3 linked regions of the Homo sapiens genome follow. The protein of the gene in region 2 purifies or fractionates together with the protein of the main gene of each other region. This does not show direct contact. Each region holds a gene or a part of one and is shown on either strand. Other genes may lie near its edges.

Region 1 (3,751 bases), on a different chromosome or scaffold from region 2:
ATGGCACACTGCAGCAGGAAAATACTCAAAAGGGCCTAGGGGCCTACTGATGAAATCCAAACTCTTTGGCCTCGCATGCAAAGATCTCCACAGTGTGATCCCGAATCCCCTACTTCACCCAAACTGGCTTAATCATAATCCCTTACTTCTTTTGAGTTCCTCCTATCTGGAACTCACTTCCCCCACTCTCCATTATTCAAGGTCTACTTCAAATTCCTATGTCTCCACCAAATACACAAAGATCTTCCCCACAAAGTACACAGTGATCTATCTCTGAAATCTCTGAGACCATCCCTTATATGTAGAACTTATCTGGTATTTGGATGTATAGCGACACTTTGTACTACAATTTATCTTTGCACATATTCCTACTCCCCACCTAGACTGGAAGCTTTGGGGATCACAAACAGGGCAACAAACAACTGTATACCTAGAGCTTACTCAAGCACACAATAAATCTTTTTTGGTATTAAGGATGATGAACAAGAAAAACATTTAGACATATAAAGCTAAACTTGCTCAAAATTATTTCTTTTTTTTTTCTCTTCAATTTACCTGGCCCCATTTTCTATGATCTAAGTATTCATAAAAACTTCATTAAAAAAACAAAAAACTTTCTCATACTACAATTTATTGATCAATAAACAAGTCTACGGTTATTGGCAACTTTCACTGACTTTAAATATCTGACACTTTGGGGATTTTTTTTTTCTTTTTTCAATCTTATAATGACTGAGAAAGGTAATATCTTTTTTCAAATGTTTCATTTATTTTCTGAAGTATACTGCACTCTAATTTAGCGGGGTCTTCTTTAAAAAAAAAATCGTGTCCTAAGAGAAAGCTTCAGAACCAGAAAATGCCGTTCTAGTAGCTGTGCGTTACTATAAGGGTCCATTAAAATTCCTTGTGTCTAACTTATTCTTGCTGATGAGCCAGTTTCCTAACCCCAAAGGTAAAGATCAAATGTTAAGTCGCCAAACCTTAACCACGTTCTACTGCCTTAACCGTGGCACAAGGTTCAGATTAAGAAATCGCCTTTGACCCAGAAGTTCCAGTTCCAGGACCTTTAACAATAATGACACATACATTTACCTTTGTAACTCACTGTTACCAGATTAACGACCATTACTAGCGTGCTTTGGGTGCAACCACCCACTCTTCAAATTCCGCTTCTGAAGAAACTAAGATCCAGGGCCAGTAGGGAAACAGAAACCGGAGTCGGGCTTTGGAAAACATAGCAGCGTCCATAACCACGCTCAGTCAATAACACTAAAACACTCGACCACTGAGATGCCACCTGTACACACCCACCCCTAGTCCACTACTTTCTCTAGCCTACCATCCAAACTTGAATCTGACTCAAACTTAAGGAAATTCCAAAGATCTGGGACAAATGGTGTGTTTCCACTCGACATGGACCCCAAAGATCCCCTCTAGACATCCTGTTTTTTGGACCAAATGCCAGGAACATAAGACAGGTTCGATTTCCTCCCGCGCCCCAGCGCTCCCGGTTCTAGGGCCCCGAACTTCGAACCTCAGCCCTCTTCTTACCCAGGCCTGCACGCCTCATCCTGCCAGAGGAGAGAGAGAAAAGGCGGGTGCGGGGCTTTGGGTGAGTAGGAAACAGCTAGGGGCGACCCGGACCGCGTCTTCAGTACCAGGGCCCAGCGAAACACCAACTTCTTCCCCTAAAGCGCCACGACATCAGTGGAGTCTAAACACCGCGCCGGATGATGGCGTCACCACGGCGCTCATTGGAGCCCTGGGAAGAAGGTTGAAAGGCATTCTGGGAAATGTAGTTCACCAACGCATAACGTGTTGCTGAGGGCGTGATGTGAACCCGGTTCCAGGAGCGGACGGGGCGTCCGGAAAAGGGGGCGGCTTCGACTGCGGCTCTGATTCTGGGTCTCTGATCCAACGTTCCCGCTGTTCCGCTCGCAGCCCGCGGGTCGCTGCTTTCAGTTTGTTGACCACCAAGTTTAACCCAGCAGATCTGCTCCTCCCCACCCACAAGAGGATGGTTGGGGTATCTTTCCTGATTTAGCCTCGAACTCCCTCTCACCTCCAGAGACGATTCAGGGAAAGTTAGAGAAAACTTTGTCCAGGTTTCTCAGTTTACAAACAAGTAATCCGACACCCACAGAAGTAACCGATTTGTGCCTTGTAGTATCCAGTAAAGGAAAGAAAACCAGGTTCCTTTGAGTAGGACTCCTGCTCAGATGAGAGCAGACTAGGAAAGGCTGCGGGATCTGGTCAGAGGCACTGAATAGTTAGTTCCCTGTTACTGCATCTGTTGTACTTCTAGAAAGAACCAAGACTTTTAGTTGTTATGGGGACCAAAGGACCCCTAAACGCTCTCCCACTTTTTTTTTTTTAACTTACACAAAGCTTATTGAAATACTGCTTACACAAGGCAGTGTGCCAATTAGGGGTTTAAAACTTGTTGGCGAGTTGGAGGTGTTACTGGTATCGAGGTTAATCCTAGAATTTCATTTTATCTCAGAGGATTTATCGTGAGAATACGATGAAATCGTGGTTTTTGAAGGGAAAACAAAAAAACCTGATACACAGTAGGTGATCAAAATTCACTGGGTGTCTGCGGTTTTGTTGTTGCTGCTGTATATATGGCAGTGGAATCGTCTCCACACTAGAGATTTCCGAATATGTGATCTTTGATCATTTAGCGTTTCCTCATAGTTTCCCAGGACATTATTAACATTGACTATAATACTGGCATAAGTCTCTGCGTTAAGTTGCTTTTGTAAAAAACACATGAAAACAATTTTTAATAAGAGTTATTAACCTGGGAAGGAGGCTTTATCCAATAGTGTTTTGATAGAAAAAAATCATTAAAATAAAACCGCCATTTTCTAAAAGCAATGAAATTAAATAAGCATAATATCAGGGACAATTATTACAAATAAAAGATGGAGATTCAATAAAAGAAATGATAGCTAGGTATCCCTTTATAACTTAAAATCTGTGACAGTCCTTTGGTTAAAAAAATGCATGTTCTATAATTAAAACGTTTAAAAATTGCCTTACAGAAGGCTTGCTGATGGAAATGTAGAAATCGTTATTTTTGAAAATATGGTAATATTTACTAGAACTAATCATTTAGATTACATAAAATATACTGCTTCCTTTACATGGTAGGAAGACATAAGAATGAAATGTAGTTAAAAGGAAAACATATATAATGTACTAAGAATATAACTGAAGTAAGGCAAAGCTAGTTCATATTGAAGTTGTTACCTAAAAAATCCAATTATTGTTTTTAGCTAACGTTGCTAGTATCAAATTAGGATAATGTCATCTGAAAAAAATTTGCACTCAAAGGAAGAGGCAGGAAAAATGAACTCAATGTGCAGAAAAAGAATTATTAAATGTGACCATAGTTGACATTAGCGATCAGAGGGAATCATTTTCACTTTTCTCGTTGTGCTTTTTCCTTTTTAAATTAAAATCCTTAACTTTTCTTACTGATTGAAAGCAAATAAATTTCACAGAGATGAATAGCATTTAGAACCTCTTCTCTATTCTCACAGGATAGTCTCACAGAAAACATCTAATGTTTGTAGGTCTCTAGGAGATAAAGGACTAAAAATTACTTAAAATAATATTAAGTATTCCTTCTAGTAATTACAAAAGCAAGAATAAAAGCAGGAAATGTCTGAATCGAGGTGCAAAATTGGAACTTTTCTTTCTCCTATCTGTCTGCTTCCTGCCTGCCCATTTGTCCTACCTCTTC
Region 2 (3,751 bases):
CAACTCCTCTGCCTCTGTTCACATTCTGTTCCCTTCACTGCAGATCCCCATGGACAAGGCACTTGCATGAATTGTGAGGCTCATGGAGTTGGGGTCGGACAACACAGAGCCGGCTCCCTCCAGGAGCTGCATGTCCAGAGAGGGAAACAGGATGTGGACAGCAAGAATGAATACATGCAGACCAGTGCCCATGGGCGGAGGGCAGAAGAGACCGTGCCTGAAGCCTCATCCATCCTGTGCTCATCTGCACACGGTCAGCTTCTGTGGGTCCCAAGCCATTCTGCCCACACATCTCCTAACTGACGTTTGGGAGGCAGCAGCATCTCTCCTCCTCCTCGTGCAGCTGACCACCTCCAGCTCAGCTCTGAGGCTTCTCCCCTTCATTCTCCTCCAGCTGAATCTGAGTCAGAGTTTCTAAGCTGGAAGAGGACCAGGAGGCCTGGCCCTATCCTCTTAAGTTTTGAGCAGCAGAAAAGACAAAGCCTTCCGGGTTTTCACTATATGATTTCATTATTTTCAAGAGTTCCAAATTTGAGTATAAAATTACGGCCAGGCGCGGTGGCTCATGCCTGTAATCCCAGCACTTTGGGAGGCCGAGGTGGGCGGATCACGAGATCAGGAGATGGAGACCATCCTGGACAACATGGTAAAACTCTGTCTCTACTAAAAATACAAAAATAAGCTGGGCGTAGTGGCACGTGCCTGTAATCCCAGCTAGTCAAGAGGCTGAGGCAGGAGAATCACTTGAACCAGGGAGGCGGAGGTTGCAGTGAGCCAAGATCGCGCCACTGCACTCCAGCCTGGCAACAGAGCAAGACTGTCTCAAAAAAAAAAAAAAAAAAAAAAAAAAAAAAATTTCAAGAAAAGGGGATATTACCGGGGGGAAATGGCCTAGGGCTTTTCTTTGAAGAGTTTGGGGGCAGAGGTAACAAATTTTAGGGGAAAAGCAACACCTATGTAATTAAAAAATAAGCTTTTTTTCTCTAGAGGAATTTTCTAAGTTTGGGAGCATAAAAATACAAAAAACATTTGGCTTTATTCACAACGTATTTTGTGAAAACTCAGGAATAACTCTTTGAATTTTGGGGAAACCAACAACATTCTCAAAAACGATGATAATCAATTTTATTGTGCACCTCTGCACCCTGCCTCCATGGTCCCACCACCAGGTTCCCTCTCCTCCACAGTCAGAAGTTCCTCCCTGCATTCAAACACTGGGTCTCTTGCCGTATTTCCTTAATTCAATCTTGGTGACATGAAAGATGTATGATGAAATGAGCCTCGAAAGGGCTCAACACACTGGCTTGTTGGACTTCTTGGGCCTGCAGGGAGCTCCAAACAGATCTCCAGCCTCCCTGAGCCCAAGGGGCTCCTCCCCACCCCTCTCCTCTGTGAAGCTATCCTGCCTCACTGGGGCAGGTTAAACACTCAGGCTCTGCAGTCAGAGCCTTGGTTTCTGAATCTTGGTTCTGTCACTTACTAGTTCTGGCATCCTGGGCAAGAGACTAAGCCAAGCCTCAGTTTCCAAATCTGTAAAATAGGGATATTTATAGACTGACCCTTAGGGCTGCTGTGCTAACGCAATTAAATGATGAGCACTTAGGACTCAACAAACAGCAGCCATGATTCACGTTGTTATTGGAATCACCTGAACATCCTCCCCCAGCCTAGAATTTAGACACTGATGGAAGCACTAAGGAAGTTACCAGGAAACCTGAAGTTCTGAATTTAAGGAGGACTCTAAGAGCTCATCAATCCACATGGGTTTATCTAGGTCTAATAATCTATTTATTCCCATCCTCTCTGTCCTTTCACCAAGGCCCCATGACCCAGAGTATAAAGTAACCCAGCAGGCACAAAACAAGAGAGCAGGCCAGTGGCTTTCCGATGCCGGAGAGGGCATACAAAGAGAAAGGGCCCTCAAGGCCAACCTCTCGGGCAGGCCTGTGTGAGTGGAAGCTGAGGGAGGAGGAGAGCACCTTGGAGGAGCTCTAGCGGAGATGACATACCACTCCAGTTTTTGGCCATTTTGAACATGTTTGCTGCTCTGGCGTAGATTTCGCATGCTTCCTCTATTTTGGATGAGCCTCTGGGGAAAAAGGAAAGAAAAAAAGGAGACAATCTAGTCGGCTATCCAGGAGAAAGCAAGCATTCTGCTCCAGTGCCGGGCACAGACGTGCCCCTACCCCTCACCCTTCACCTGTGAAGCCAGCTTCCCCCAGGCCTCTTGAGTCTGTGGCCCCCGCCCCTGCATACAATGGCACACTCACTTCGGGCAGACCAGCTCCCTCCGGGAGTACTGGGGTAGATACTGGGTGCTTGCTGGGGTAGTGGGGCGAAGAGTTCCTGACCCCACCACAACCCCAGGGTCTGACAGCCTCTTCTACTTCCTGCCTGGGATACTAGGGGCCCACTGGGTCCCAGGCGCGCTACAAATCCCCTTTCCCCGGGAGACTGCAAAGCATTCTGGGGGACTAGCCCAGTTTAAGACATCGTGTTGCTTTCGCAGAGGCAGCCTTAATCCTGTGCCTTGCACTCTGTGGTTGCTCAATAAAGACCTTGCAGCCCTGGAGTGTGTCATTACCAGCTCAGGACTGGGCATATATATCACACAGCCATACAAAGAAATGGGAAGCACTATTTTAAAGTGTAGATATAAGATGTTCCCATTTGTGTTTAAAAAAAAAAGAGGGTGGGCTGGGTGTGGTGGTTCATGGCTCCTGTAATCCCAACACTTTGGGAGGCCAAGGTTGGCGGATTGCTTGAGCTCAAGAGTTCGAGACCAGCCTGGGCCACACGGCAAAACCCCAACTCTACAAAAAATACAAAAAATTAGCAGGGTGTGATGGTGCACGCCTGTAGTCCTAGCTACTAGAGAGGCTGATGTGGGAGGATCACTTGAGCCTGGGAGGCAGAGGTTGCAGTAAGCCAAGATCACACCATTGAACTCCAGCCTGGACGACGACAGAGCCAGACCTTGTCTCAAAAAAAAAAAAAAAAAAAAAAAGAGAAAGAGAGTGAAAATAATAGAAACATACATGTTTATATAAACATAGGATATTTCTGGGCAAATACACAAAAACCTAGTAACAGCATTTTTCTCTTAAGGTGAAGCCTGCAGAAGGAGGGCCAGGTGTGGGAGGCAGACTTATTCACTGGACATCCCGTATTTGTACTGTCTGAATTTTTTTTTAACTGTTTGTACATCTTTTCGAGAAAAAAAATATATACATATATACACACACGTGTACATATATACACATGTGTATATATGTGTATGTGTATATATGTGTGTATATATCTATACATTTACACATACACAGACACACACACACACATATTTTTAAGTATTAGGATTTATATTTGGCCCTGTGGTCCAGCAATGAATTACATCTCTAGCAATTTATCCTAAAAAAACTAATCAGAAAAGTTACAAGGATGTTCAGCATAGCATTATTTAAAACAGCAAAACCCCCCAAAAACTTATTGTCCAACAGTAGGGATACACTGGGAGATAGACAGGAATTTGAAAACATAAAGGGTACCCTGTTTGGGCAGCTTCACTCTGGCTTCTTGACCTCCACATGTACATAATGAGCCTCCTCTTGACTTGGGGGACCTCATTAGTACCTCAAACCCGTAAGTCCCACTGCATTCTTCTGCCCTTAATAATACAACCAGGCTTAGCCCGCGAGGTCTGTAGTCTCTGTAACTGCTCAAACTCCCAATATCTACATAATCAGTAGAATAA
Region 3 (3,751 bases), on a different chromosome or scaffold from region 2:
ACTCCTTCTCTACTAAAAATACAAAAAGTAGCCGGGTGTGATGACGCACACCTATAATCCCAGCTACTCGGGAGGCTGGAGAATCGCTTGAACCCAGGAGGCACAGGTTGCAGTGAGACTCCCATCTCAAAAAAAAAAAAAAAGAAAAGAAAAGAAAAAAAGACCTTTCCAGCAAGTTGATCATGACCTTGTGCCTCTGAGAGAAGGTCTATGCCTCTGAGACAAGGTGTGTGGTCTCAGTGAACCCAAATCCCTCCTAGAAGACTCACTTAGCAAAGAAAAGAGCTGCTTCTCACCAGTTGTCTGAGACAGTCACTAGATCCTAAACACAAGGAGGGTTGGGTGTGTATATGTTCAGGGGTGGGATGTGTGCTATTAAGGAGAATCACTGGGTTTCTGTCTTGCATAACTGTTCTGTCCATGGTGCCATCAATAACTGAGATAAGGAATATAGAAACAAACTTATCAGTGATGATAATAAACTTAGCTGGGAATATGACACATAAACTAAACATTTCTGTAGGTAGTTAAAAATAGGTTTTGGAGTTCAGGAAATAGTTGGGGCCAGAGGAACAGTTTGAGTTGTGGTGTAGAAGGTGTCTGTTGAAAGCTTGGGGATGAATGAGGTTCTGTGACAGTTTTCTGCCATTTGCACATAACTTCTGTGGGGTTTCAATTTTGTTACATTTGGGGAAGATAAAAACAATTTATTCTTTTTTCAGCAAAACCAAATTCTTGTCATTTTGTTAGGAATATTAAGTATTACCTGATGGAAAAGTTGAAAGCATCTGTGTTTCATTATAATAAGTAACTAATACTTTTCTGGATACATTTAAAAATAGATGGCTTTGTATGCTAATTTCATGGCCTTTTAGCAAAGTCGATCAACTTTTTCGACTACAAACTCATGTAAGGGCTTGGCTCTTTTGTTAGGTAACTATATATTAGCACATAGAAATGCTAATATTATGTCAAGGAAATAAACAGTTTATGCGTAAAGAATGCACCCTTTATAGTTAAATATATGAAAAGTTTAAAATACTGAGATTGCTAATAGAATGATATAATCTAGACACGACGGGCACAGAATATTCTGACCATAATTTATTTTATAAAACAGGATCTGTTATAAGCTCAGGGTCACAATTATAAATGATACAGATACATGTAGCTGTAGTCCGCCTTGCATTAATTTTTTATTTCTGCATAGCAGATTGCTACAAACTTAGCAGCTTAAAACAGTACTCACTGATTAGCTCACAGTTTCATGAGGCCAGAAGTCTGGATACAGTGTAGCTAGGTCCTAGTGTAGCTAGGTAGCAGAGCTAGGGTCTCACCAGGCCGAAATGAAGGTGTCGGAGGGGGCTGATCTCACCGGAGGCTTGGGTCCTTTTCCAAGCTCATTGATTGTTGGCAGAATTGATTTCCTTGCAGCTGTGTGGAAGAGATTCCTGTTTTCTTGTTGCCTGTTCGCCAGGAACTGCTCTCAGCTTTGAGTTTGCCTTCAGTTCCTGGCCGTGTGCCCCCATTGGTGGTTCACAGCATGGCAGTTTGCTGCTAATTCGAGACATCAGGAGTACTCTGGCCTCTAACTTAAGGAAGGGCCCACCTGATTAAGTCAGGCCCACACAGACAGTGATTCACTCGAAGTCAGCTGATTTGTGTCCTAATCACAGGATGGCCCATCATATTCCGAGGGTCACACCTACACTTAAAGGGGGATTATAGAGGAAATGTTTACAAGGGGCAAGAATCGGGAGCACTCTTAGAATTCTGCTACCAAACCCAGCTTATAAATTGACTTTGTTCCAAAAATTTATCAAGTTGACCTGTGGAAATTCAGAATGCATTTCTCCTATGAGTGTCATTTTATAAGGCACTAAGTTGCCAGCGTGCATCCCATAAAGATTCAGTTTAACTCATGATGTAAGTAGCCATAATAGCATAAGCCAAGCCACTGTGTGTGTGGTGTGTGTGTGTGTCTGTGTATACATGCCACTATTTTTAAAAAGATAACATACAGGCTGGGTGCGGTGGCTCACGTCTATAATCCCAGCACTTTGGGGGGCTGAGGCAGGTGGATCCCCTGAGGTCAGGAGTTCGAGACCAGCCTGGCCAACATAGCGAAACCCCATCTCTATTAAAAATACAGAAATTAGCTGGGCGTGGTGGTGGGCGCCTGTAATCCCAGCTACTCGGGAGGCTGAGGCAAGAGAATCACTTGAACCCGGGAGGCAGAGGTTGCGGTGAGCCGAGATGTCGCCACTGCACTCCAGCCTGGGCAACAGAGTGAGACTCCGTCTCAAAAAAAAATAAAAAGACAGAAAAATAGAGCATATAGCATAACAAGCATAACATTTTTGTATTTTTACTTTGGTTTACAATACCACTTACCTCCCTTTGAATCCCGATAGTACAGACTCTTGCCCCTTTTGGCTGTTGGTTGTGTGTATTCCCAATGCCCAGACCCTGGTAGTTTCTCCCATAACCGTGGACTGTTATTGGGATGAGAGCAGTGGCTAAAGACTGTACATTTCACTCAGTCTCAAGTTGTACTACTGAGGGAGTCCTGGCATTTGGAGTATACTACAGCTTTGCAGGGAGGGGAGGTTCAATTAGGGTTTGATGGAATTAGGGCTGGGGGAATGAGAAAGGGGTAAGGGCCTGGAGGGTTTGGGGGAAATGTTTTGGTGACCCCTTTCCTTGCTTTCGTCTTCATTCTGCCATTGGGCAAAATGGAAGAAAAGGAGAATGTATGAGGGTCAATGGAAAAGATGAATGTTGAAGACTGAAGATGCAGGAAGGCTTTTGTTTAGGTCTCTAACTTGCCTCCCCTCTGCTGCCCTTTTAGGCACCTCAGAGCTTGCTAGGGCCACTGGGGCAGCAGCGGAGTATGTGATGGAGGGACACAGTCGGGGGAAGGCACCGAGTGCCTTGGGTGTCTGGATGTTCTTTCAGTCGGGAGGAAAGAAATCTTGGGTGATTTAATCGAAGATCGTCTCAAGTACGTATCACGAAGAAGTCGTGACACTCGCTATTGGACAGTCCTTACTAAGCTTAAAACTCCCCGTTTGACCTAACCCATCCTTGAGTTCTTTTGCTTTTTCTGTCAGCGTGCAGCCTGAAAGTGGGGAGTCAGACATTTGAAAGGTAAGCCAGATGAGCAGAGCATGTGGAAACCTGGGTCCTGGGGCAGCTGCTAATAATACCTGTCCTCCTGGTGTCTCTACAATCTATGATGTCAAGTACATTTCACAGGGGACCTCTGCTATAGATCATTTAGACCTGCTTTTTTTACATTTCTGTGTTTTGTTTTAGGTTTGATGAGGCGGCACTCTCTATTCAGAAAGAAAAAAATATTTATAAGGAAATTGAGAATTATCCAACTTGTTATAAGGTATTCTTTGAAAGTGTTTGTTTTTGGTATTACATTAGATGATTTTTTATACTGGTATGAATAAGTACTTAAGAAAGGATTCTATGGGTATTTCTATGTTTTTGTAAAATAATACTTCATGGGCCTCTATTTTTGACCAAGATAGAGTAAGCCCACTACAGCTTGTTTCTCTGCTGATTACAGCTAAACTACTGGATAAAATACAAAAGCAACCACCCTTGAACTCTGAAAAGTAAATAAAAAGAGACTAAGGAGAGGAGCAAACACGTGGAGAAACAACCACCATGGGAATGAGTTTCTCGGGTTTTTTTCCATTTCCTCTTGCAGCATTCATTGCCCTGCCCTGAGAGAAGC

The links.
Region 1: the proteins of NAPA (region 2) and BET1 purify together in Homo sapiens (affinity purification with mass spectrometry; 5 studies listed by BioGRID and IntAct, with this or other methods). This does not show direct contact.
Region 3: the proteins of NAPA (region 2) and NAPG purify together in Homo sapiens (affinity purification with mass spectrometry; 5 studies listed by BioGRID and IntAct, with this or other methods). This does not show direct contact.

The regions. Positions count from the first base shown.
Region 1 is NC_000007.14:94,002,647-94,006,397, forward strand, and holds the start of BET1 (BET1 homolog), read right to left. Parts: upstream 1,710-3,751; 5' UTR 1,571-1,709; coding exon 1,552-1,570; intron 1-1,551. UniProt on the Homo sapiens protein: Required for vesicular transport from the ER to the Golgi complex. Functions as a SNARE involved in the docking process of ER-derived vesicles with the cis-Golgi membrane.
Region 2 is NC_000019.10:47,501,414-47,505,164, forward strand, and holds part of NAPA (alpha-soluble NSF attachment protein), read right to left. Parts: intron 2,090-3,751; coding exon 2,010-2,089; intron 185-2,009; exon of another isoform or gene 44-184; intron 1-43. UniProt on the Homo sapiens protein: Required for vesicular transport between the endoplasmic reticulum and the Golgi apparatus. Together with GNA12 promotes CDH5 localization to plasma membrane.
Region 3 is NC_000018.10:10,543,008-10,546,758, forward strand, and holds part of NAPG (gamma-soluble NSF attachment protein), read left to right. Parts: intron 1-3,318; coding exon 3,319-3,397; intron 3,398-3,751. UniProt on the Homo sapiens protein: Required for vesicular transport between the endoplasmic reticulum and the Golgi apparatus.